Linked DNA regions of Homo sapiens: all the other regions are reported to be linked to region 2. Evidence: microRNA targets listed by miRTarBase, many of them from high-throughput screens and not tested one by one. Region 2 holds a microRNA gene; each other region holds the end of a gene's coding sequence.

Region 1 (4,280 bases), not on the chromosome of region 2:
AAGGATGCCATATGGGGAATTAGTCATTGATGCAACAAAGCTGAGACCTCACATGTAGCATTAACGGCGTTCTCTCTCTGTTTTCCTTCAGGCTTCCATTAACTGGCCTGAACACACAAACCCAGCAGTTGCTGATGACTGTAAAGGAAAGAAAACCCAGTTTGATCTTTCTGTCTGAAACTTGGTCTTTAAAGGAAGGCAGAGAAATTGGTGTGACACCTGCTTCTCAGCCAGGTTCAATAATACCTAATTCTAATTTGGATTACATGTTTTTCAAATTTCCCAGAATGTCTGCAGCCATGAGAACGTCAAATACAGCATCTAGGCAACCCCTTTGATCATGTTGTACGTAAACAGTATTTATTATAAATTACTACCGTGACTGGGATGCAAGAGAATTAGGACTATAATTTTCCTATTTGATGTGTGTGTGTGTGTGTGTGTGTGTGTGTGTGTGTGTGTGTGTGTGACCTTGATCCAGTCAACCACTTCAAATTCCTACACTGTCTCAAGAGTATTAAAAGGATTATATGAAGTAATAAAGGATAAAATGCATTGGAAAAAGCTGTGAAGCATGATTGTTTCATCAGTGGGCACGGTGGAGTAACACTAAAGAAACTATGATCCTTTCATGGTTTGTTTCTTGTTTTTGTTTTTCTGGGTTTTGTTTTTGTTTTTGTTTTTGTTTTTGTTTTGGTCTAGGGAGAGTTGTTAGAAGGTGTCCCTAGGAATCCTTCGAAATGAAATCCTCATCTCACCTTCCCTCCTGACTTCGTATTCCTGCTGCACCATGTTCTTCCCGGATCTACCTAACACCGTAACTGGCATTCATTTCCGTATCTCCCCTGCTCTTAGCCAGCTCCGCTCACAAACTTGTGTGTGTTCCATGGGATGAAGGGTGACTTCTCTAAGCTGTGGAGAAATGTCAGATATGTGTGGCCTCAGAAAAAGCGTCTCCTTTTCACCTTCTTTCAGAAGAGGGAGTTGAACTGGGCATCCTCTGATAATGTTTCCAACCCTGACACTGTATTTACAATGCCCCATTGCTAAGCATCTGGTTGCTGTACCTAATAGGCCTCCATAGGTGAGAGGATACCTACTCAAGGTGGGTAGGTTTTAGGGTCTTTACGTGCTGAAAAAAAAATTTTTTTTTTTTTGTTTGAGATGGAGTCTCGCTCTGCTGCCCAGGCTGGAGTGCAGTGGTGTGATCTCAGCTCACTGCAGCCTTCTGCCTCCCGGGTTCAAGTGATTCTCCTGCCTCAGCCTCCTGAGTAGCTGGGACTACAGGCGCCCACCACCATGCCCAGCTAATTTTTGTATTTTTAGTGGAAATGGGGTTTCACCATGTTGGCCAGGGTGGTCTGGATCGCCTGACCTCAAGTGATCCTTGGCTCAGTTTCTAAGGAGAACTGTCCTAATTTCTCCCTTTGACAGTGTTTCTAGGACACAGGGGTATACAGTAAACCTGAGCTTTCTGGTCCCACATTGAGCCAGGAGCTCAAGCCAAGCACCTGGCTTAATGTGCCACTGTCTTGGTCCAGCCGGGGCATGGATGGTGTGGCTCAGAGCCAGGCAGGGGTAAACCTATTTTGCCCAATGCTATTGCTCACCCTCAGCTCTGAGCTCTTCTCCTGTTTGAGATCTTTATGTTCTGCCTTTTGCTCTAAATGTACAGAAGCACTCACTGGGGTGGTCTTGGCAACAAGCTCTGTACAGGGATGTGTCAGTCACCATAAGCTGGGGCACCTGAGTCCTTAGTTAGAGACAGGCTCCTGGACCTGATCTCCCCACAGAGATGTCACGATCATGTCATCTGTAGTATCTCTCAGTGACATTGCCTCAGTGAGTCTGGGGCTTCTCTGATGAGAATATTTGATTCCCAATGCAAAACCTCCTCAGCCACTTCTGATAAATGCAACTTCTGGACATGATGTGAAGATTCTGATGATTAGCAGAATAACTGGCTAAAAGTGTTTTCTATGTTCCTTTTCAAAACTCTGATTTCAGAATCAAGTCATAATCAGCTGTGGAAAGAAACCTTGAAGGTGAATCAAAGGATCTTACTGTAGTTTCAACTGGGCTTGTTCTTTGATTTTTCTGACATGTTTCTAAAATAAGATAATTTTTTTTTGAGACAGGATCTCACTCTGTCGCCCAGGCTGGCATGCAGTGGCACGATCACAACTCACTGCAGCCTCGACTTCCTGAGCTCAAGTGATTCTCCCACCTCAACCTCCCCAGTAGCTGAGACCACAGATGCATGCAACCATACCCCCCTAATTTTTTGTACTTTTAGTAGAGAAGGGGTCTCACCATATTGCCTAGGCTGGTCTTGAGTGATCCGTCCAACTCAGCCTCTGAAAGTGCTGGGATTACAGGTGTGAGCCACTGCACCCGGCCAGGCTATCACAATTTAAGGAAACCTCTTGTTTTCCCATGACTGAAAATTCTGAAGTCATTGAAGCCATCTTCCCACCTCAATATTGCATATCTTCAATGTCCACATACTCCATGGCATATTGTAATTTGTCATCCAGGTTACCTATATAGCCCTGCCTCCTGTGCCTCTCCTTGGAGAAACAGACTTCCCTTCTTTATTCTAGATAATTTGCACTGAGAGGAAGCATTCCTACAAATAGACAAAAGCCCTATTTAGAGCATATAGAGCAATAATATCAGAATTTTAAAATTCTGTTTAAAATTAATGGAGTGATCTCACTGCAAGTTTCAAGGTAGGGAATTTTAAAAGTAGTCTTTGGTAAAACAAAAATTAAACTGGGAAATAACTGTCAAAATCAGCCTTTGTGGAAAATTTGAATCTAATAATTTACAACCTCCAGGGGAACCGTGAGTGAAGGAAGAAGCTGCTTAATTTCAGGAAGAGAGTTGTGGCTTTTTTTTTTTTTTTTTTTTTGTGGAATCTTGTTCTATCACCAGGCCAGAGTGCAGTGGCATGATCTCGACTCACTGCAAGCCCCTTCTTCCGGGTTCAAGCGATTCTCCTGCCTCAGCCTCCCGAGTAGCTGGGATTACAGGCACCCACCACCACGCCCAGCTAATTTTTGTATCTTTAGTGGAGATGGGGTTTCACCATGTTGGCCAGGGTGGTCTGGATCTCCTGACCTGGTGATCCGCCCGTTTCGGCCTCCTAAAGCGCGGGGATTACAGGCGTGAGCCACTGCACCCAGCTGAGTTGTGGTAATTTGACTCACCCACCTACTCTTCCCCACTCTGCAGCTTGATGGCTGCTGAGAACATGGAGTCCCTCATTCCCAGGCCAGCACGCTGATGCCACAGGATGAAGAATCTTTGTTCTCAAAGAATTGTGGTTGTGTGCCTCCATCTATCTTAGTGGTTCCTTGAAGGGTTGGCTCAAGGGCTTGCCTTTATTTCACCCTTTTTAGATCTACACAGACTGAAGCTGATTTATTGGGGGGTGCCAGTGTCATTAAAAGCACTTAAAGACAAATACACTTGCTGAAGTTGCCTGGGTGAGGGATAACAGGGAAAACAGATGACAGAATGAAAAGCCTATTAAGGAAGAGTCTGGGGGGAGAATTACATGAGATAGTAAGGGCTTTGAATAGCACTGAGGTATACCAAGGATTGAGTTCAATCATACATGTCCATGCAAGATTATAAAAATCTGAGAAACCCTATGTTTTACCTCTGATGATCCCGAGGCTCCATGCAAGCAGGAAATGAAGGCTGAAATGAGAGTTGTAAAAATCCTGGCTAGTGAACCTGGGAGGTGGAGGTTGCAGTGAGCCGAGATCGCGCCACTGCCCTCCAGCCTGGGCGACAGAGCTAGACTCCGTCTAAAAAAAAAAAAAAAAATCAAAATCCTGGCTAAGCTCCCTAGAGGGATCCCATGGCAAAGAGCTTGAGAGAATTTTGGGTTTGCGTTCAGGCATGTTTTAAAAATCTCCATCAAATTGTTAGTAGACCAGAAGGCAGAGACTTCAGTGGCCACACAGGAGAAAGTGAAACCTTTACACAGTAGTTTACAAAGGTTCAAACAAAACAAAAAATGAAAACAAAAACAGAAGACTCCAACTCACAACCAGCAGCAACAAGAAAGCCTGCTCAGGGGTGAGAATTTGATGTCCAGGGTTTGCCACACACAGTGTCCACTTTTTCTTACCAAAACAATGAGGCACACACACAAGACAGTATAATAGTCGTAAGAAAAAATAGCATATGAGCAAGCCAAGACATTGGGCTTCCTCTCCAAATACTAAATTAATTATCTTAAATATGTGCAAAGAACTCAAGAAAAT
Region 2 (4,280 bases):
TAGCTGTGACTGTGGGTCCTCGGCTCATCTGTGGCATTTGGGGATGGGACTGTGAGGGAGGAGGGCCTCAGGTTCTGGAGAAGGGCCAGGTATTTCCATGTCAACCCTGCTTTTTATAACCAGAGAGAACATATGAGGTAGCACCAATGACCTCCGCCACCAATCCTTCCTATTAGCTGATACCCAAACACCGTTCCTTCCAGCCGAAAAGAGCCCTCATAAAGAGAGGGCAGAGAGAGTGTGTCAAGGCCATGTGACAGCAGGCAGTATGCTGTTGCCTCCGGGGTATCCAGGGTAGGCGGCTGCTGGGTCCATGTAGATTGGGTGCTCTGCTGGCTACGGAGGGGTCAAAGGACAGGTGGCAAGGGTGCAGAGCCGCAGCCTGGCCCTGGGATTTTCTTCTCAGACCTCTGCTCCGGGGTCCACCTTCGGGGGAAAAGAGGGCACAATTTTACAACTTTGTAAGAGGAAACCTGAAGTTTTCTGACCCCTGATTCTCCCCAGCCCTGTCAGGATTGATCTAACTCTCTGTTGAGATGCAAAAGAGTCTGGAGATAACAGTACTCCCCCCACCATGAAAACAATTATTGTCAAAGGAGTTTTATAGCAAACAGAAAATCCGGCCCAGAATTGGCTAAAACATTTGGGGAGCTCACATCAGGAAATGAGATTCGTTTTTATTTCTTGATTCTGCTGAATTGGATTGAAGGCAGCAGAAGGCATTAAGTGGGATTTGACCTGGAGGAAGGTGGCCTGGCGGTGCTCCTGGCTTCCCCGACCCTCCCTCCCTAGCCGTGTGTAGCAGGCACTCACTTTGCTTACAGCTTCCTCGGTGCCATGTATCTGTTTTTGGAATCACACCTTGCCTGGAAGGCTGCTTGGACCCATGGCCAGTGCCACACAGGGGCCTGGGCACCGGCTAACTGCAGACCCAGCCACCTGCTTCTTGACCACAGAATTCGAGATTTACTCATGAGCTCTCTTGACGCACTGACTTTGGGATGCAAACCATTATGACTAGGGGCACTTCCCGTGGCCTGGACTTCCACAAGGAAACCCTGGTTCCACCGTCAGGAAAGCTCCAATACCTGGAAAGAGGTTGTACCTAAAGTGTTCTCTGTATTGGCGGAAAATGTTTCCCGGGCAACCTCTTTTCATTGTGAAGGCTTGAAGAGCTTTTGGCTGACTTCCCAAAAGCAACCTGGGACACGCAAATAGAAGCCATCTGACGTCTGGTCTACCCAGTGCCATGTAGATTCGGGGAATCTTCCTGGAGGTGACACCAACATCGGCGAAGATTCGGCAGTTCTGTTTTGATTTTTTTTGTTTGTTTTTTGATCAGTGCTAATCTTCGATACTCGAAGGAGAGGTTGTCCGTGTTGTCTTCTCTTTATTTATGATGAAACATACACGGGAAACCTCTTTTTTAGTATCAAATCCCACCCTGGAGGCACTTCCTGTTCCTGATGCAGCCTTCAGGGAGGGACGTTGCCGGCTCCACTCTCGGTAGGCGCAAGCGAGGCTGACAGCGTGCCATGCGTCGTGGGGGTGTGGCTCTCAGGCCCCAGCCATGGAGGGCCCCTAGGAGGGGAAGCTGAGTTTGGAGAAGGGCCTGTGCTTCTGTGGTTGAAGGAGGTTGCTCATTGTGGTGTTTGTCTATTTGTTGATTCACGGTGGGTGGCGCCTCTTCAGTGTGAGATCTTGCTTGGATGGCCTTCTGGACACGCTAGCAACGTCATTGAAGGGACGATGGTGCCATCTGCTCTCCAGGGTAGCTGAGGGGATGGTAGACCGGTGACGTGCACTTCATTTACGATGTAGGTCACCCGTTTGACTATCCACCAGCGCCCGGTCCATCTGTGGGATGACATCTTGGTGCACATGGCAACTTCGGAGAAGATGTGGGAGGACGTGGGGCCCGTGGGACTCTGCAGGATTTTAGGAGGGGTTTCCCTTCGGGGCCCCCTCCTCCTACCTCGTTAAAATCAATATAAGCAATCATCAGTGAATAATCTCTCTTTTGGTTTCAAATCCTGCCCAGGAGGGCTGATAGTCTGGCCACAGACAATGCCAGGATTGCAGAGGCCTGGGCTTCAGTGCCCCATCAGGGAAAGTCCCACCCCACACCACATGCTGACTGCAGGAGGTGTGTGTGTGACCTGGTACAGGGGTGTGGTTTATCCTCGGAAGGGTTTGAGGAGTGTTGTGTGTGTGCAGGACAGGGCAGGCGTTGGGACAGCTGTGGTAGTGAGGGCCACTTTATTCTGTGCTACATGAAGAGAGGCTGTCTGACAAAGCTTGCCATGTGTTTGATGAATGCTACGTGGCCCATCTCTTTTCCATAGGAGGACTTCCTGGACATGAAGCTAGATTCCGGCAGGGCCACTGGTGTCAGCAGCACTCCTGGTGAGTCGTGGATGGGGGACTGAGGAGCTGGCAGCGTGATTGAGATGAGCCCTTCCTGTGTTGGGACCACTCAGAATCCAGCCGCTTCGTGGGCAGCGTTCAGTCCATGCTTGGGGAAAGGGCTTTGTTGCCGTTGCTCATCTCTGTCTGTTGTTCAGCTCTGCTTGCCTTACGAGGCCCCAGATGCCCTGGATGCCCTCAGTGTCAGACTGCGGAAGATGTGTCCCGGCTGTGACACGCGCTTCAGGGGAGGGCTGTTGGCGTCAGGTCCATGGAGAGGTATGGGAGTGGACATCTTGTCTGAGAGCAGACATTCTATTTCGGGTGTGTGTCTTGGTCCGTTCATCCTCAGTCTCCCTCCCATACCTAGGATGGCTTGTGGAGAGAAGGCCTGCCCTGAGGGCTGAAGTTGGGACCCACAGCTCTCACCCCGGCCTTGGTATGCTCCCATGGCTACGGCAGAGGCACAAGAAAGTAATTAGAAACGCAGAAACTCCTTAAGGCCAAGGCTGGGAACTGCTATATTTCTACCCACAGATCATTGACCAGAACAATTACACGGCCGAACCCAAGGCAAGGGGCGGGGAGGCCCACTCCACCCGGGAGGGGGTTGTGGTGAGGTGTGAATGCAGGAACCGGTGAGGATTTGCCACCACCAAGTCAGTTGTCCACGTGGACCACCTGAGAACTTGGGTTTTATTCATTGCTCATTCATCCCTCCCTAACCCGCAGCTTCCGGTCTGCCCCGGGGGCTCTTCTCCGGCTCAGGCTGATCGACAGTGGTGACGCTGTGCCAGGACCCCTGGTCATTCCATCTGTTTGAGGCAAATGTTAAAAAATCCCTTGCGCTACCCATTCTATGACGACTCCCTTGGCTCAGAGGCTCCATCAGGGCAGACACTTTGCTGTTTGTCCCTAAAGGGTGGGTGGTAGATCTCATCCATCTTATCTGGGGAGTTATTGTGACTCTCCTGGTCCCTCCTCATGTATCCTCAGGAGGACTTTTAGGATGCAAAATCACTGTTTCTGTGCCATTGTCATATTCTGTGCTACTGGAGGAGACTTTTTGTTATTGAGAAATTGAACACATCGTGCTCACAAGCAGCTCCAGGACACAATGCCACCTGTGCAGAGGGGGCAGACCTGTTAGATGTCTCCCAGGTCTTGAGGGGGTTGTATGCACGGCCATATCTTTGTCACCGGTTGCCCGGTGCGCATCAGGACCCATGTGCTCTCAGGAAGCCCGCAGGAGTGATACCAGCCGCGGAGAAGCAGTGTTGTCAACGGTGCTGACGTGCGGTACTTAATGAGAAGTTGCCCGTGTTTTTTTCGCTTTATTTGTGACGAAACATTCGCGGTGCACTTCTTTTTCAGTATCCTATTCTGCCTTGAAGACGTCTTGGTTTGGGTGCAACTTCAGGGAAGGCACATGGGCCCCTGTAGTGGACGCTGATCAGGACCTCCCTACCCCATGTCTTTTCTCCTTCCTAAATTTCTCCTTGTTTTTTTTTTTTTTTTTTTTTTTTATGAAAGCTCCCGTCTTCCCGCCGTGTGCTTTGATTGCATTGACCCTGCCCCACTTCCTCCACCAGCCCAGGCTTAAGCGAATCTCTTGATCTCTTCTCCTTTGCCACTGCAATTGCTTCCGGAATAGGCCCATGACCCCACTGGGCCAGTGATAGGCAAGGAGATGCTTGCTGCAGCTTCTGGGAAAGAAACTGTTTCTCCCTTTCCTGTGATAGCTGCCAGAGTAGACACTGTCTATTCCATTCAGCTGGGAATAGACAGTGAACTTTGACGTGAGCTTCGAAGGTCCCACAGCCGTTTAAGGACTGAGAGGAGAGGGCTTGGTGCCACGCAGACACAGCAGAGGG
Region 3 (4,280 bases), not on the chromosome of region 2:
GACTTTTAGAAGTTTTTAGTAGAACTAATAACCCTTTTTTATGACGTGTTTTGGGATAGGATTGAGGTTGAAATTGTCTCTTTATTTGCAAACAACTCAGTATTAGAAAGATTCTTTAAGTATTTATTAGTCCCAGTAACCAACTGAGAAATAGAGTCATTGAAGTGTATGTATAAAAATAAAATGGTGAAAGCTAAGATTTATGCGCTCTTACCATTTTGATCTTGTTTTCAGTGAATACCCTATTCAGCGGTCAAAGAAAGATTCTGAGGGAATAGAAATGGGAGTCGCAGGTTCTGTAAGCCTTCTGCAGAATGTTACGTTGTCCACCCAGCCCATTTCAAGTTTGGATTGGAGTCCAGATAAAAGGGGTCTCTGCGTCTGTAGTTCATTTGACCAAACGGTGAGAGTACTGATCGTTACAAAGCTCAATAAAATTTGACTTCAAGACTTTGGACTTGAGGCTGGGCACGGTGGCTCACTCCTGTAATCCCAGCACTTTGGGAGGCCGAGGCGGGTGGATCAGAAGGTCAGGAGATCGAGACCATCCTGGCTAACATGGTGAAACCCCGTCTCTACTAAAAATATAAAAAAAAATTTGCTGGGTGTCATGGCGGGCATCTGTAGTCCTAGCTACTTGGGAGGCTGAGGCAGGAGAATGGCGTGAACCCGGGAGGCGGAGGTTGCAGTGAGCCGAGATTGTGCCACTGCACTCCAGCCTGGGCAACTGAGCAAGACTGTCTCAAAAAAAAAAAAAAAAAAAAAGACTTTGGACTTGAAACCTTCCAGAGGAACACTCACACAATTTAAGATAGGTTCTGGAGTCCTCTGACCCTCATTGAACAAAGCTGGATTTGGCTGATGATAAAAGACCCCAGCCACAAGCCTCTGGGCCAGCCTCCAGCCTCTCTCGGGGCTTGTTTGCTGACTTGCTGCTGCACGTGGGTATCAGAAGCACCAAGTAAACTATCTCCAGGGCCAGTTCTTTTCTCTCCCTTCCATTTCTAAGTCAATAGTTGTCTATAATTAAACATATTTCAGATTTGTTCTGTGTCCCTGAAGTTCCATATTTTATCTTTATGCTTGTGTTATGTTTTAGTGTCTATAATGTTGTGGTGGGAATCATTTCATTTGGTTTAAAAGAGTTTGCCTTGGAAAAACTGAATTAACCTTCATAAATACATTTTGAGAGATTTCAGTGTGAGTAATTTTCTGGACATAATATTATTGTATAAAATATCAAAATGGTGGGCCAGGCGTGGTAGCTCACGCCTGTAATTCCAGCACTTTGGGAGGCTGAGGCGGGTGAATCACGAGGTCAGGAATTCGAGACCAGCCTGGCCAACATGGTCAAAACCCGTCTCTACTAAAAATACAAAAAATTAGCTGGGCTTAGTGGCGGGCGCCTGTAATCACAGCTACTTGGGAGGCTGAGGCAGGAGAATCACTTGAACCCAGGAGGTGGAGATTGCAGTGAGCTGAGATTGCGCCACTGCACTCCAGCCCTGGCGACAGAGTGAGACTCCGTCTCAAAAAAAAAAAAAACAAATATATATATATATATCTCTCTCTCTCAAAACGGCACGGTTGGTCTAGATTTGGGTAGCTATTTTCTGCAATTTAATTCATAAAACAAAATGCTTTGATTTTAAAGAGCTCTTTTTTACTTAAAATACAGGAACTGAATTGGTGAGACTTTTGGTTTTTGACTGTGGTAAGTGATGGTGAAATGTACAAGATTGTAGGGGTTTTGTAGTCTTATTTTTGGTCATACTTTAAAAATGCATTTTATGAATAAACTTCTGTTTTTGAGATCTACAGAAGCTTTGATTCTGTTACCTTAACAGTAGTAATAAAGTTAACATTGTCACATCATTTTGCTTTATAAATGCTTAATTAGTAGTTTTAATTCACTTTGTTTCTTTAATGTTCAACATATCTTTAGCTAAGCCTTTTGGAATTATTGACTTTACCACATTTTCATTAAGCCTACCCTCCCCCACCTCCATTGAAGAGAACGCAGCCACCTAAAACATTCACAATATGTAAAGTATATGTGATTTCAGGGGATCATGGAGAGTCACTTATTTGGAATATTAAGTTAAGAAAATTAAGGTTTTTTTTTTTTTAGTTTAGAAAATTTTTAGAAGTCTCTCTTAGAACACTTGTATTTGGTAATAGAGTCAACAACAATAAATACCTGTATTTTATTAAATCTAAGATGTCATCAATATCACTGATGCTATGCCATTCAAGAAAACGGAGCCAACTAAAACATTCATAATATGCAAAATTTATGTGATTTCAGGTGATCATGGAGAGTCACTTATTTGGAATATTACGTTGAGAAAATTAAGCTTTTTTTTTGTTGTTGTTTCCAAATTTTTTTTTTTTTTTTTTTTGAGGCAAATTTTTTTTTTTTCTTGTTCTGTCACCCAGGCGGGAGTGCAGTGTCATGATCTCGGCTCACCTGCAACCTCTGCCTCCCGGGTTCAAGCAATGCTTCTGCCTCAGTCTCCCGAGTAGCTGGGATTACAGGCATGCACTACCATGTCCTGCTAATTTTTGTATTTTTAGTAGAGATAGGGTTTCACCATGTTGGCCAGGTTGGTCTTGAACTCCTGACCTCAGGTGATCCGCCCGCCTCAGCCTCCCAAAGTGTTGGGATTACAGACGTGAGTCACCGCACCCAGCCCCAATGTTTTATAGAACAATGGGATATAATTATGAAAGTAAAAATTAAATTGAACTTTTAAAAAAGTTTATATCTACTTTTTTTTAATTTGCAAAGAAAAAAATGGAAAATTTGTGGAAATCTCTCCTAGGACACTTGTATTTGGTAATATAATAGAATCAACAACAATAAACACCTGTATTTCATTAAATCTAAGATGTCATTGATATCACTGATGCTAGGCTGGTATGATGAAACTGTGATAAAATCCTTTCTTTTTATCACTATTTGCTTTATATTAATTGAGTGTTCTTTTAATTTTATTTACACATAGTTTTTTTTCCATTGTGTATCACTTGTGTGCATCCTTAAAAAGAACCACATAAACAGGAGACTATTATTCTAGGTAAGGTAACTCAGGAATGGAAAACCAAACATTGTATGTTCTCATAAGTGGGAGCTAAGCTATGAGGATGCAGAGGCATGAGAATGACACACTGGGCTTTGGGGACTCGGGGAAAGATGGGAAGGGTGTGAGGGATCAAAGACTACAAATCAGGTTCAGTGTTTACTGCTCGGGTGATGGGCGCACCAAAATCTCACAGATCACCACTAAAGAACCTACTCATGTAACCAAATACCACCTGTTCCCCCCAAACTTATGGAAATAAAAAAATTAAAGAAAAATTTATACAAAATAAATTTGGTATGCTATTCCTTAGATTCCTTCATATTCAGAGTTTAATTCTTCTAAATCACTTTTTGAATTCAGAGCCATCAGTGTTCATGGTTTTCCTTATAATATTGTCCTTTGTGCATAAAAGTGTTTGTGATGTAGCATTTCTTTAAAACATGTTCCACTATTGCCTTCAGGGTTTTCTTTCAATTCACTGACACTTCTTCAACATGTTTTTGTGTATACATACATGCAGGCAGTGACAACTGTCAAGACTGCAGCCTGGCTGACCACGATTATTTCAGTTCCCTATTGCTGTATAACAAACCACTGCAGACCTTCATATCTTAAACACTAACTATCATTTATTTTGCTTAGGAGTCTATGATTTGGGCAGGGTTCAGCAAGGAAGGCTCATCTATGCTCCATATAGCATGAGGCAGGCAGCTCTACTAAAGGCTGGTGGACCTGCTTCCAAGATGGCACTCACTCATATTGCTTGCAAGTTGGTGCTGGCTGTTAGCTGGGACCTCAACCAGATCTGAGAAGCAAGGGCTGAGCTCGCCACATGGCATAGGGTTCCTGAGCATGGTGGCCAGGTTCCAAGGGTGAGCATCCCAAGAGAAGACCAGGCAGAAGCTATCTTGTTTTTTTAATGACCTATCTTCATAATTTACTTAGCAATCACTTTGCCACACTATTAGTTGAGGCAATCACAACCTCCTATCCCAAGTGCAAGGGCAGAGTACATACATTCTACTTCCTTTTTCTTTGTGTGTGTGTGTGTGTGAGACAAGGTCTTACTCTGTTGCTCTGTTGCCCAGGCTGGAGTGCAGTGGCACCATCATTGCTCACTGCAGCCTCAACCTCCTGGGCTTAAAGAATCCTCCCACCTCAGCTACCAGAATAGCTAGGACTACAGGTGTATGC
Region 4 (4,280 bases), not on the chromosome of region 2:
AGGCTCCAGAGAGAGTGAGAAAGGAGACAGAAATCTGCTGTTCCATTAGTCTGGTTTCTCACTTGACTCTCATAGTGTATCTCATTGCCCTAGTATAATTCTAAGGTAAAGAAAAGCTTTAAAAAAAAAAAAAAAAAAACCACAATATGGTATCTCAACACAAACTCAAATGAAGAAACAGCCATCTTTCTTGATTCTAGGATTGTGTACCTCTTCAATGAGGTACTTCCCTGTAGGCTCTTAAAAGGTCATCAAAAGCACATTTGATTAAATGTGCTTTTTCCCCATTTGTACTCAATTTAGAGCCTAACATCCCTAGAAAATGGAATTTCATTGTATATGACTGGGTATTACTTAGAAAAAAAAACATGTAAGTTTTGGTTGGTGTTTAGAAAGTCACCATGTTTGAGTGCTACAGGATTTGGGAACAGATAGCTATTCACTGGCTTGGTTCTGTCTTTCTAGGAATATTACTGTCTTTCACATCCTGTTTTGTTTTCTTCCCTCCTAGTTGTGGCAATTTATGACTATACAAAAGACAAGGAAGATGAGCTGTCCTTTCAGGAAGGAGCCATTATTTATGTCATCAAGAAGAATGACGATGGTTGGTATGAGGGAGTTATGAATGGAGTGACTGGGCTTTTTCCTGGGAATTACGTTGAGTCTATCATGCATTATTCTGAGTAAAGCTCAGCAGGGCTGTGCTTGCCTCACAGGAATAGTCAGGTCTTCCCAGATTATCTGAAGGCCCTGGGGATTCCACTCCAGTAAAGTAGAATGAAGGATACAAATGATAAAAATTACACTTTTTTTTTTGGTTTATTCCCCAGTATTAAAAACAAAGCAAGCTGAGTCTGAACAAATGGATCTTTCTGCCATCATTTGTACAATGCTGAGCTGTCTGGATTGAAATAAAATGACCATTTTTATGTATGTCAAAGGTATAACAGCATAACTGTGTAGCCAAAACAAAATCAGATTAAGACTGATTCAGAAAAATCTGGGATCTTTCTCAGGAATACTGTATACCCTTGGGATTTCTCCTCCTGCAGAATCTGTGGCATTGGATGTTCTTCATTGCCTGTGCTAAGGGGTTAACCTCATGGCCCAGTGGGTACCCTAGCCCCTTCTTTTCTTCCACTTGTATGAAGAGGAGGGAACCAACATTTAAATACCACACTTAACCATTTTTACAATTATTTCAGATGGCTTTTTTCCTCTGTGACACTGTAAATTCTGCATTCTCTCAGCACTTGAGTGCACCAAACGAGTGAATGCTGAACTCACTTGCATCCCTTCATGTTTCTGTTTGTGGATTATAAGGATGATGAAATGTGAAAGTCTCCCAACACTCTGAGGGTGGTGAACGATTGCCACCCGTTTGATTTTAATGTGCTGCTGCATGAGACTGCATTGTTGCTAATGGCCAGTGTACCCAGATGTGAAGTGTGGTAGGCTGGTTCATATGTGGAGGTGGGTGTGTGAAGCTAGACACGAAGGTCCCTAAGGTTCTGAAGAGACTTGAACTGTGGAAATGCTCTTAGCAGGCATCCCGAACCCCTGCTTCGGTGCTGTTTTGAGGAGTAGGATCTTGGAGTTCAGACCAACTATGACTATCATTTCCTTCACTATCTAGAAAAACGCTATTCTACTTTGGAAGAGAATAGTAGTTATTTTCAAGTCTCCTGACAGTCACTGGGAGTACAAGGTTTGCTAATGTGCTCTCTGGACGTTATTAATGGCCAGTATTAGTTGCTGCTGTATTACTGACTCGCTTAGCTGTAGAAAGGGTAATACTCTCCTGATTTTGTATGATTGGACTCTTAAGTAGCTGCTGTTAGTCAGAATTAAAACCCATCTCAGACTAAGAATATAATGAATAAGATTAATAGGCCAAAATATGTATCTAATCACATTGATAAAAATTAATATAACTGACACAATAAAACACATTTCCCCCATCTGTACAATAAATACAGCTTCAAATTCAGTGGAGTCTGTAGGGCAGATAACTTTAATCATCACTACTGTAGTCAGTATAAGAAATGCTGAAAAAAATCCAGGAGGGCTTGTCTCTTTGTGGGTGGTCACTGTGATGTTGGGCCAGCTCCTGTTCAGGTCCAGAGCTGCTAACGTGGGTTCTACTCAGTCCCAGTGACTTGGCCAGAATAGAGCTTTGCCAGGTAACTGCCCTGTGCTAGGTGAAAGGGGAAAAGCAGTAGCTGGATATATTTCAAATGAGGTTTTGAACAAGTTCAGAAAGTGGAACTTGATTGAAAAGTGAACAAGTGTAGTAGTGTGTGAGAAAATTCAGATGGTGTCGGATGCAGAAGTTAATATTCCACTTAATGTTATCTGAGCATTAAAAATCATCAGCATTTAACTGAGACCCCACTATAGAGTTTCCTTATCAAGACTTTTTGGTTTTAAAGTTGTTTTTAATGCATTGCAAGTTACAATAGCTATTTTGCTTTTAGATTTTTCCCAGCACTTTGTATTTATTAGCTTTCATTAACTTGCCTCCAGTATACATTCCACTTCGTGCTTTTCTTAGGTCATTTCTACATCCCTTATTCCTTGTTTTCCTGCAGTGTAATGGCCCTGAATGTCCTCTGAGCCTTCAGCTCCATTATGGACCCAAACTAGACTATACTTGGATAAGTTAAGCTCTTCTTCGTGTACTGGTCTATAATTAGAAAAACTGTTTTAAATTAGATGTTCCCATTATTTATTTAAACAGCTTTTTGCTGAGAAAGCTTAGTGGATTAATGAGGCAGAGGGTGTTTTGAAATCCAATAAATAGTTCCCACAGGCTGGGTGTGGTGGCTTATGCCTGTAATCCCAGCACTTTCGGAGGCCGAGGTGGGTGGATCATGAGGTCAATAAATTGAGACCATCCTGGCCAACATGGTGAAACCCCATCTCTACTAAAAACACAAAAATTAGCTGGGCGTGGTGGCGCACACCTGTAGTCCCAGCTACTTGGGAGGCTGAGGCAGGAGAATCACTGGAACCTGGGAGGCAGAGGTTGCAGTGAGCCGAGATTGTGCCACTGCACTCCAGCCTGGTGACAGAGCGAGACTCCATCAAAAAAAAAAAAAAAAAGTTCCCACAGCTCACCACTACAGAAGCAGGGAAGACAACTATGCAGAAAACAGAGTTAGTGGCGGTCAGCAGGAATGCAGCTGGTCTTTTGGACCCCTACGGGATGGGGGCAGTGCAGAAGACACTGGTGAAGTCCTTTATACTGAAGACCTGTGGTTGGGAGCAGGGGTAGTCCATGGGTCTGCTGATTTTTTTTCCCTATTTAGTACTAATGTGTGTGTGATCTTTGTTTTACAAACAGTACCTTTTGGGTTTTCTGCATATTTTATAATTTTTGTACAGTTTTGAATTCTATAGATTGTCTTGGAAGGATACTGTGTGATGGGTCAGGCACACAGTAATTGGAGACTTTTAATGTATGTAATATTTCATAGATTGCATGCTATTAATCATCTGTGAGGGTAGTATTTTTTGTTTTATTGTAAGTTTCCCTCTTTTTTTATAAATTAAAAGATGGTTGGTATTAGGAATTTCAAATGAATGCAGAAAATCTTACATGCTGTGTACTATTAATATTATAACAGACGATCCAAGTCCAAAATCTGACCAATAAAGCAACCATTTTATCAAGATAGAGGGATTCTAATGGGAGAGGGGATTCTTCCCTCCTGAAGTTTGTGTGTCCAGTCCCCTTAAAAAAAATGAATAGTTGTCTTTTCTTGTCATATTAATACTCGAAAGTCCATGGTGGTATTAATGAAAGTACACTTTATTGTTGCCTTTGAACTTACGGCCAAGGCAATAAATCAGAAACAAAAATAGTGCCAATGTGTCAAAATCGACATCTGAGAGATTCAGCCTCCCATTTGGAATAAATATGAATCTTCTAAGCTATCTTGTTTAATATTTTCCATCATTTAGCTACTTCCTATCTCCCTCAGAGGCGCCTGCTGTTCCCATTTTAGAGTTGACAGTGGCCTGCTAATTTTGCTATGTTCCTAAAAGTTACTGGGTGTGAGACATTTTCATCCCCTCCTTTTTCCTACTGCTGGTGTTTATTATCCAGCTAGACAATATTTTATGCATATTTACCGTGATGTCTGGACCGTACCTGTGCTCCTTGGCAGTTTATGTTGAAGATAACTAAAGATTTTTCTCTTTGGGAGGCATCAAAATGATGGTAGTTTGCTTTTATCTTTTTATGTTCATTTTCTTTTAGTAGGTGACCTTTCTGC
Region 5 (4,280 bases), not on the chromosome of region 2:
CAAATATGTGGTTCAAATTTAATGTGTAGATAAAGCTGAGAAAATACAGATTTGGAACAAGTTGGATGTTACACAATGGAATGTCACCAGGTGTCTCTAAGGTCATGTGAATTGGGGCTGAGGGTTAATGATCAGGACTTGGTGTCCACTCTCCACTCAGACTCATTCCCTAGACCCATGTAAGAACCCAGAAGGCCAGGTCTCTCATCTGACTCTTCAGTGGAGAAATATGCCCTACCTGGTCTCAATCTACCCTTGTTTCTTTCTCTCCAGTGGTACCTGGATTACTATCCTAGGTCAAATAGTTAAAGCAACCCCTTCTTCTACATATTGAGGTGCTCCTGCTACCTGGTGTTTATGTGGACCACTCTAGTTGCTCAGAGCTCCCAGACCATGGGGATGCTCTGTCTGAGGACGTTTCAGGTCCTGAGTTCATAGTGAATGGAAGCTGTGAGTTCAGGGCCCATCCCCTCCCAGAAGGATCTTGAACCACCTTCTGTTTCTTTTGCTCCTTGGGCCAGGTCAACCCGGGGAACCTGGCTATGCTAAAGATGGACTTCCTGGGATCCCTGGCCCTCAAGGGGAGACAGGACCAGCTGGACATCCTGGCCTCCCAGGACCTCCCGGTCCCCCAGGCCAATGTGACCCTTCCCAGTGTGCCTACTTCGCCAGCCTTGCTGCCCGGCCGGGTAATGTGAAGGGTCCCTAAAGGACTCTGGAAAGCCAGAAGACTGCAGTGGATTTCTGAAACTTGAACTCAGAGCCCAGTGGGAAGCCAGAGGTCTTGAAAGACTTCAGCCATGTGTTCCTTTTTTTTTTCTTTCTTTTATCGTTTGCTTTTTGTTTTATTTTCTTGAGAGACCTCAAAATTATTAAATCCAACAGACGCTGCCGGTCGGTCAGATTATTATTAATATTATTGTTGTTGTTAATTATTATTATTATTTCATATGCTGATGCTTTGTGAGTTCTTTTCCACTCCTTTAAAGTTGGGAAAACTTGATTCGTGGGGCAGGAGATTGTTTCTTCATTCTTCTGACAGCCCCCATCTGACGCGTAACTGCCCATTTTAAGGAAACTCTTGGTGCTACAAAACCCTGACCAGACACTTGGCAAATTTACCTCTTTCTTCAAAAGAAAAACTTTAAGAAAATGAGCCAATGGGCTTCATTCTCAGTCATGCCCGGAGATCACCCAGGAGAAATAATACAAACACCACCACTGTCCAGAGAGAGTAAAGAAGCAGAAAGAGAAAGAATTTGCAACCATGAGGAATGTTCCCACCTCCCGACGGGACGTGCATTTGGAAAACACAGAATCAGCCCTCAGGGTGCACTCCAGCCACCTCAGTGCTCTAAGCTCACAGAAGTGAAATAATGTCTGTGGGTTGGCAATGGCTTTGTGGGATCATATGTCTTGGCCAAAGATGGGAAAACCTATGTTGAAGAGGCAGCCCTTGAGTGTTAATTTGTCTTCTAAACTGTGTAAGGCCCCTTCAAGTTCCTCTTGTTGGTTTCAATTATATTAATTATAAAACAAGTGGATGTGGTGACCATCCACTTGTGTTTCCCTAATGATGGGCAGTTGGCCAGGGCACTGACCAGAGCTGGGAAATTTGTATCTCCAAGGCGGCTCTGTCTCTGAAATAAATGGCATCAAGTGCATGTGTGTATGCGACATGCCCTGCCTGAACAGGTGCTCAATAAATCCAAGTTTCCTTCTCTTGAGTTCCTCTTGATGATTGATTTCTTGTATTCGACTTCCACCTGAATGTGAACTCCTCAAGCACTGGGATGTATCTTTTTCTTGTGAGAACCGTAGCACACAGTCCACATGTTCAGCCCACCTGGTGAATGAACGAGGGAGTGAATGTGTGTGCCAGACTGAGCTAGTCCAGGGCCGTTCATTAGCCTCCCTTCATATGGAAGCAGACATTTAGATGTGCACATTTATGCAGGATCACAGTGGGGAGGGAGTGAAGCAAGTTGGAAGGTTTTAGCAGAACCTTTCCTGTTAAACTGCATCTAGAGGCCAAATGAGTCACCAATACTCTTCCTGCATTTGTTCTTGACTGACAGATTGACTGGTGGACCGACTGATCGATCCATTGATTCATCCATTCATTAATTTGTCCATTCACCCAAGCTGTTAGCCACTTACAGACTAAAGCAGTAGATGTTTATCAAGAACTTCCTTTGTGTGATCCCCTGTTCTGGATGCCTCTAATTGATTTAGAAACTGGGAACATAAACATTTCAAGAAGTTTGATGTTTCCATGGGTAAAGAAGTATTATTGCAATGATTTAAAAATGAAATCTGATACCCATTCCTTGTGTTCAGTCAGCTGGTGCTGATTCTGGGGCTGGATGGGTGTCAGGGGTCCAAAAGAAGCCATTCCTGTTGGTGCAGAATGAGACAGCCTCCCTCTCAGTCTTTCTCACGTTTACCATCTCAGTTGGTTTTCACAACCATTGAAGATGCAGGGGTATTACTCTAATACCCTTTTTCATTTGAAGAAACTATCTCAGGGACCTCAGAAATACTCTCATCCAGTGACTTTTAACATTTTCTGACCATGACCCACAGTAAGAGGTGTAATTTCTTAGTGACTCAGTACATGCATACATATATAAAGCAAGGGTTTTGAAATAAAATATCTACCTGATCAAGTGTGCTTGATCGAACATTTACTATTCTATTTCATTTTTATTGTTGTTGTATGAAATAGACTAAGTTTTAGAGCAGTTTTAGATTCACAGCAAAATTAAGAGGAAGGTACAGATTTCCATGTGCTCCCTGCCCACCCCCAACCACCCACATACACACACAGCCTCCCCCACCCACCCACCTTCCAAATCCCACACCCTAGCGGTACGTTTGTTACAGTTGATGAATCTACATTGACACGTCACTATCACCCAACATCCACAGTTGACATGAGGGTTCACTCTTGCTGTTGCACACTTTATGGGTTTGGACTAATGGATACTGATATGCCATTATCCACCATTATAAGATCATACAGAAGAGTTTCACTGCCCTAAAAAGTCTCTGTTGTCTGCCTCTTCATACTCCTCTTCTCTCCTAACCTGTGGAAACTGCTGGTTTTTTAAAATTGTCTCCATAGTTTTGTCATTTCCAAAATATCTAGTTGGTATCATACAGCCTTTTCAATTTAGCTTCTTTCACTTAGTATTTTGCATTTAGATTCCTCTGTGGCTTTTTCTTGGCTTAATAACCCCCTTTTTTTTAGTGCTGAATAATATCCCATTGCCTGGAAGTTTCAGAATTTATCCATTTACCTACTGAAGGGCATCTTGGTTGCTTCCAAGATTTGGCAGTTATGAATAAAGCTGCTATAAACATATCTGTGCAGGGTTTTGTGTGGATGTGATTATTCAACTCCTTTGGGTAAATACCAAGAAGCACAATTGCTAGATCGCATGGTAAGAACATGTTTAGTTTTGTAAGAAACTGCCAAATTGGTCTTCCAAATAGCTGCATCCTTTTCCATTCCTACCAGCAGTGAGTTTCTGTTGCTCCACCATCTCACCTGCATTATGTGCTGTTAGTGTTTGGGATTTTGGTCATTCTAATAGGTGCGTAGTGGTATCTCATTGTTGCTTCCATTAGCAATCTCCTAATAACATGATATCCAGCATATTTTCATATGCTTATTTTCCACTTGAATATCTTCTTTGGTGAAGTTTATGTTCAGATGTTTTGCCCATTTTAAAAAATTAAGTTGTCTGATTTTAATTTTTGAGTCTCAAGAGTTTTCTGTATATTTTAGGTAAAAGTTCTTTGTCAGAAACCTGGCAGTCACAGGCCTGAAGTTCCCAATTACTGGTACAGGGTGAGGTGTTCACCTGCCAGGTGGGACCAGAGGTCAACAATGTGAGCTGGACAGAAAACCAACCCAAATGTGTTGCATTGAAAGGATGGCTTTTCATTCTGAGACTGGAATCTCTCTAATTTTTAGGGTTTAAAATGACTCATACTGTGAGAAATAATAGTGAGAGAAAGAGAATGTGGGGTGTGTGTGTGTATGTGTGTGTGTGTGTAGAGTAATATTTACTTCTTTGTTTTTTATATCCTTACTTGACAAAATAAAGATCTGGCTCACCTCCCTTATATAGTTCCCAATAATTATTATTTTGTAATTAGCAGTTCGTAATTCCCACACCTGGGAATATCTGGTGTAATCCAAATCCTTATTTTTCCCCCACAAATGGGAAAAACAAGGCTCAGAAAGAAAGAGTGATTTTCCCAAAATTCTA

The links. The annotated mature microRNA hsa-miR-1193 reads GGGAUGGUAGACCGGUGACGUGC and lies in region 2 at 1,781-1,803, shown strand. An mRNA with a match to its seed (bases 2 to 7 or 8) in the 3' UTR can be bound and repressed. Matches are read on the target gene's strand: a 7mer-m8 pairs with bases 2 to 8, a 7mer-A1 pairs with bases 2 to 7 and ends in A, and an 8mer does both.
Region 1: the mRNA of NLRP11 is a reported target of hsa-miR-1193. The part of its 3' UTR that is shown has no 7-base or 8-base seed match.
Region 3: the mRNA of DNAAF10 is a reported target of hsa-miR-1193. Seed matches in the 3' UTR shown: 7mer-m8 at 544-550.
Region 4: miRTarBase lists ABI2 as a target of hsa-miR-1193. Seed matches in the 3' UTR shown: 7mer-m8 at 2,893-2,899.
Region 5: the mRNA of COL22A1 is a reported target of hsa-miR-1193. Seed matches in the 3' UTR shown: 8mer at 1,552-1,559.

Annotation. Positions count from the first base shown.
Region 1 is chr19:55,781,683-55,785,962 of GRCh38, reverse strand. It overlaps NLRP11 (NLR family pyrin domain containing 11), which reads left to right. Exons shown (of 10, transcript NM_001394894.2): 10 at 92-564. The coding sequence ends at 338. Among named protein-coding and RNA genes, the nearest start is that of RFPL4AL1, 15 kb to the right of the region's middle.
Region 2 is chr14:101,028,281-101,032,560 of GRCh38, forward strand. It overlaps MIR1193 (microRNA 1193), which reads left to right and starts at 1,772; the gene lies at 1,772-1,849. LOC124903407 (mucin-2-like) reads left to right here. Exons shown (of 5, transcript XM_047432049.1): 5 at 1-4,280. MIR494 (microRNA 494) reads left to right here and starts at 1,354; the gene lies at 1,354-1,434. MIR543 (microRNA 543) reads left to right here and starts at 3,707; the gene lies at 3,707-3,784.
Region 3 is chr2:68,127,400-68,131,679 of GRCh38, reverse strand. DNAAF10 (dynein axonemal assembly factor 10) reads left to right here. Exons shown (of 8, transcript NM_138458.4): 8 at 235-1,875. The coding sequence ends at 442. Among named protein-coding and RNA genes, the nearest start is that of DNAAF10, 28 kb to the left of the region's middle.
Region 4 is chr2:203,426,666-203,430,945 of GRCh38, forward strand. ABI2 (abl interactor 2) reads left to right here. Exons shown (of 12, transcript NM_001375670.1): 12 at 512-4,280. The coding sequence ends at 687. Among named protein-coding and RNA genes, the nearest start is that of ABI2, 100 kb to the left of the region's middle.
Region 5 is chr8:138,585,682-138,589,961 of GRCh38, reverse strand. It overlaps COL22A1 (collagen type XXII alpha 1 chain), which reads left to right. Exons shown (of 65, transcript NM_152888.3): 65 at 522-1,727. The coding sequence ends at 709. Among named protein-coding and RNA genes, the nearest start is that of FAM135B, 91 kb to the right of the region's middle.